Regions from separate parts of the Homo sapiens genome. Here region 1 is linked to region 2. A link means that fine-mapping ties the variant in region 2 to the expression of a gene that starts in the linked region. Tissue or cell type: whole blood. Region 2 holds a variant in brackets; the other region holds the start of a gene. All regions are shown on one strand. Distances are from middle to middle.

Evidence for each region. PIP is the estimated chance that this variant, and not a neighbour inherited with it, causes the effect.
Region 1: it holds the start of ZFYVE16, and the variant in region 2 is fine-mapped to the expression of ZFYVE16 in whole blood (INTERVAL, PIP above 0.99).

Annotation. Positions count from the first base shown.
Region 1 is chr5:80,406,379-80,409,136 of GRCh38, reverse strand. ZFYVE16 (zinc finger FYVE-type containing 16) reads right to left here and starts at 1,073. Exons shown (of 19, transcript NM_001284236.3): 1 at 984-1,073. RefSeq lists a silencer at 473-592 and an enhancer at 313-1,111.
Region 2 is chr5:80,551,320-80,554,077 of GRCh38, reverse strand. No RefSeq gene overlaps it. Among named protein-coding and RNA genes, the nearest start is that of ANKRD34B, 18 kb to the left of the region's middle. The variant TA/A (reference allele first, on the strand shown) is at 1,111.

The sequences.
Region 1 (2,758 bases), 140 kb after region 2:
GACTCAAAGGAAAAAAGTCAAAATATTATAAGTAATTGATTACTATTACATGGTGGAATTATGATTGATCATTTTTCCTTATTCTTTATTCTATTTTTTCAATTTTTGCCACTAAGCATGCGGTTTAATATCCAGGAGAGGAAAAAAAGGAAGAAATTAGGCGAAAAATTATATATAGTTCTACTGGATTAAACCATTAAACTCCCGCCAACTCAAGAGACGACAAGCTCAAGTGAATAAATGGAGGAATCTGATTGAATCAACAAAGTGCCTATTTTTTGAATTGAAAAGATTAACTTAATATCAAATGTATGGACTGGTTTTCATACAAGTCAAACTAATAAGAAAGAACATCCTTAGTCTGGAACATAATATTTGCAATCACGATAGTACAAATAAGAGTTAAAAATAAGGTCCTCTTTTGGAGTTCTCAAAAGTACCAAAGGAAAGGCAGCGGGAAAGACGGCCACTGCATCCTTCTGGTCTCTAACCAAGAGAAAATGCATGGGTGCGGGAATGGACAGTGCGAGAGCACCGGCGGCGATGAGACTCCTCTGCGGGGACCGAGCCTCTGCCACTCCTGAAGAACCACAGTCCCCTCCGCAGTCGCAGCCCCTCCCCAGGCGGGACGGCGGCGCCAGGGCGCTTCTCCCTCCGTCCGCTGGGGTCTCTCCCCCAGGAGCGCCGAACACTCCGGCGGCCCGGGAGCGGGGAACCGGGCAAACAGCCGCCGTGATTGCCCTCCCGGTCCAGTCCGGTCTGGCCCTTCAGGCTCCAGGAGGGGACATCAGATTGGAGGGCCAGGGTTCCCCGGCCAGCTCCGGGGGCTCGGAAAAGGAATCGGTCGGGGCCCAGGCTCTGTCCCCAGAGGAAGAGGGCCAGACCCAGCGCCCAGGTCGGCGGGTCCAGCGGTCACCCCGCCCCCCTGTGGGAACAGCAGGGCTGAGGGGAGGCCGAGACGACCGGTCACGGGGGGCTCTTACCTCCCTACAGCCCCTGCGGAGCTTTTTGGGAACTCGACACGACGTCGCGCTGAGGAGTGAAGAGCTACCCCGGCCGGGAGTCCTGGGAGTGCCAGATCCCGGCTCAGGGCTTCTTTCCCCGCCCCACCGGGCAGCGCAGAGAGCGCAGGCGCAGAGGACGCTTTCCTCTTCGGCTCACACGCCCCCTCCCTCGGCATCCGCGGCCGTCTCCAGGCCCGGGGCGCTTGCGCACTACGACGCAGGTTCCGAGCCAAGGGCACTAGATTTCTTACCGGAAGTGCCTGAGTGGGTTGTTGGGTGACGGGGACGCCTGATGATTCGACCTTAGGTCGGGACTCGGTTCTCCACTCGACTGCGGGATCGGGAGGCCACTCGCGTCAGTGTCTGACTTCCTTTACCCTTCGCTAACCTAGAGGCAGCTTCCCCGGCTCCAGCCTTAGCCCTTTGCTGAGCCTGCGCGGCGTTCCGGTCTCTACTGGACAGACCCGCCTTCCCGGCAGCGGGCTAGGCCTGCTCTCCGCGCTGCTGGCCCCTCGGAAAACATAACTTTTTGTTTACTTCAAACTGATTTTACAACACGCTGCCCCCCCGCCTCCCCCGCTTCCCCCGCTTCCCCTTCCTCCTCCCGGCAGCAATAAAAATGCTCCCAGCCAACGCCGAGCTCCAAGCCCCTCCAGCTGACTGGACATTCCCAGCCACACTTTCCTTCCCTTCGCTGCGTTAGTTCTGCATTTTTATTTTAAAGCAGCTGGTAGAACAGCTGTCTCCCTGTCTAAAAGCAAAAGCTGACTTATCTGATGTAGAAATAAAATGTCACTCACTTGATGTATATTTGCTTGTTGAGTTTTGCTATTTTTACCACAAGTTTCCTATAAATTTAAATGAGACCCGGCGCGGTGGCTCACGCCTGTCATCCCAGCACTTTGGGAGGCCGAGGCGGGAGGATCGCTTGAAGTCAAGAGTTCCAGACAGGCCTGGGCAACATAGCAAGACCCTGTCTCTACTAAAAATGAAAATGAAAAAATTAGCCAGGCGTGTTGGCGCGTGCCTGTAGTCCCAGCTACTGGCTGGGAGTCTGAAGTGGGAGGATCACTTAAGCCCAGGAGGTCAAGGCTGCAGTGAGCTCTGATGGCAACACTGCATTCCAGCCTGAGCAACAGAACCAGACCGTGTCTCTAAAAAAATAAAAAATAAAAACAAGGGAAGAGACATACATGTGGGATCAGATACAGACAGATACAGGGAAAAAGCAGTTCCTCAAAGGTTAAACAGCTCACAGTTCATACTGATCTTTCAAAAATCGCAAGAATTGGCCGGGCGCAGTGGCTCACGCCTGTAACCCCAGCACTTTGGGAGGCCGAGGCAGGCGGATCACCTGAAGTCAGGAGTTCGAGACCAATCTGGCCAACATGGTGAAACTCCGTCTCTACTAAAAATACAAAAATTAGCTGGGTGTGGTGGCGGGCGCCTGTAATCCCAGCTACTTGGGAGGCTGAGGCAGGACAATCAGGACCATTGAATGAACCCAGGAGGCAGAGGTCACAGTGAGCCAAGATCGAGCCACCACACTCCAGCCTGGGTGACAGAGCAAGGCTCCGTCTCAAAAAAGAAAAAAAAAAAATTGCAAGAATTATAATTTTTCGAGTATTCCAGCCACATGTGATTTGTGATGAAAGATTTGAGAATCAGGGTTCGCATCTTAAATCTGCAGTTTACAACTATAGTTCCTGATCTTTGAAAGATACTTAATCTTTAACCTTGGTTTTCCTAAACAA
Region 2 (2,758 bases):
CCTTACAATCATGTTGGAAGGCAAGACATGGATGGCAGCAGGCAAAGAGCTTGTGCAGAGAAACTCCCATTTTTAAAACCATTTTAAAACCATCAGATCTCCTGAGACCCATTCACTATCACGAGAACAGCACTAGGAAAGACTCACCCCCATAATTCAATAACCTCTCATTGGGTCCCCTCCCACAACACGTGGGAATTATGAGAGCTACAAGATGAGATTTGGGTGGGGACACAGAGCCAAACCGTGTCACCTACATTTTAAAACAAGAAGACATAGTGCAATTGGGGATGATAATATTTGAGCTTATATAGCCTTATGCCAATATTCCTCAGATCCCATTTCTAATTCTCCAAAAGGGCCAGATGGTAGACCATCACAAACCCACCAGATTTATTGGCGCTGCCCACTGGCCTCCCCAAGGACATCCTGTCTCTTTGTGTACCTTCTTTGAATGTGTACAATTCTTTTTTTTTTTTTTTTTGAGATGGAGTCTTGCTCTGTCACCCAGGCTGGAGTGCAGTGGCCTGATCTGGCTCACTGCAAGCTCCGCCTCCCAGGTTCCACCGATTCTCCTGCCTCAGTCTCCTGAGCAGCTGGGACTACAGACGTGCACCACCACGCTTGGCTAAATTTTTCTTTTAAGTAGAGACGGGGTTTTACCATGTTGGCTAGGCTGGTCTTGAACTCCTGGCCTCAAGTGATCTGCCTGCCTTGGCCTCCCAAAGTGCTGGGATTACAGGCACGAGCCACTGCGCTCAGCTTGAATGTCTAGCATTCTTTTTTTTTTTTTTTGAGATGGAGTCTCGCTCTGTTGCCTAGGCTGGGGTGCAATGGCGCAATCTTGGCTCACTGCAACCTCTGCTTCCTGGGTTCAAGCAATTCTCCTGCCTCAGCCTCCTGAGTAGTTGGGATTACCGGCGCCCACCACCACGCCTGGCTAATTTTTGTATTTTTAGTAGAGATGGGGTTTCGCCATGTTGGCCAGGCTGGTCTCGAACTCCTGGCCTCAAGGGATTCACCTGCCTTGGCCTCCCAAAGTTCTAGGATTACAGGCACGAGCCACTGTGCCCAGCCTGAATATCTACCATTCTTTTTTGTCTTTTTTTT[TA/A]TTTTTATTTTTTTTTGAGATGGAGTCTCACTCTGTCACCCAGGCTGGAGTGCAATGGCACTATCTCGGCTACTGCAATCTCCACCTCCCAGGTTCAAGCAATTCTCCTGACTCAGCCTCCTGAGTAGTTGGAGTTACCAGTGCCCACCACCACGCCCAGCTAATTTTTGGATTTTTAGTAGAGACAGGGTTTCGCCATGTTGGTCAGGCTGGTCTCGAACTCCTGACCTCAGGTGATCATTCTTAAAGAGAAGGCCAGGAAAGGAAAAACTGGGAAGAATAGCTAACACGACAAATCGCAAAAACAATCCAAAAGAGTGTTGATTAGCTGGAACAATGGATCAAAACAAAAAACCTAAAGCTTAAGCATCATAAATACCCACATTTAGGTTTTGAAATCAGTTGTATAAGATTAGGATGATCAGCAATTTATATGTTTAGTGAATTCTTAAAATCTTATGTTACCTCAGCATCCATTTTGAATATAAGCTGGACTTTCTCATACCAGAAGCAAGATTCAGTCACCCTTGACACACTACTAGTTCTACACCGCCCCCCAGTTCCTCAGCCTGGTCGATCCAGGTATCTACATTATGTAACTGCTTCCTGGTGACTTCCCTATGGAACAACTAGATACACCCTGCTTAACTGGCCCCACTGACACTCACACCCCACATGGATTGTGCATATGTGCCACAGCGGTCACCTCTTAGTCACCATGTGACCTCCTAGAACCCATGCCTTAAACTCACCAATTCAAACTCCCCCTGGGAAACCTGTTTGGCTAACACCCTGGACCCAATAAAGGTGTTGACCCACGGGTCCCTTCCTCTCTCTCTCCATGCACTCCCTGACATCCCTGCATGTGGGCTCCAGGTATGCTGTGTACCGCAGGACCTGTAAGTAATAAAACCTTTATTTCTCTCTTACGTCTCTCATAATCACTGAAGGGATGCTTTCCATCTTAATGATCCTAATTTGAAACAACGTGGGGAAAAATGGCAGTTAATTAACTAATGCAGGTTTGTTGGGAGTGCTAACAGCCTGACTACATTATTTAATCAGTGTCTACTCCTGAATCTTAGCACTCATAGATCAAATGTGAAATAGTGTTTTTAATTCTAGATACCACATCTTAAACTAAAGAATATGCAGTAAAAGATGAAAAATGATAGAATCTAAAACATTTTTTTTAAATAAGTAAAAGAATTGTTGCTTAGCTTGGAGATAAAAAGACTCAGTTGAGATTAGATGGCTGGCCTTAGATACTAACAGAACCAATGTAATGACTTATTCAGAGTCCTCCAAATAAAGATAAGTTAGAACCAGAAAATTAAGTTACAGAAATATTTCAGTTCTCTCTTAGCTACTGGAGCTGTCTATCTATGGAAAAGCCTGTCCTAGGAAGATCTGAGTCACCACTTTTGGAAAGAGGAAGAGGAGATGGACATGGAAGAGGAGAGGTTAAATCAGAGATTTAACAAAAAAGATTCCATTTACTGAATAATCTTTAAAGTCTTTTTGAAAAGACAGTTCTTTGAGACAATCCTTACTAACAGTTCCAGATTTAGCAGAAAAAGTTGAAAACGAATGATTGAAGTTGAATACATTTTGAAAAGGATTTTCTTGTCAATTAAAAAAAAATTG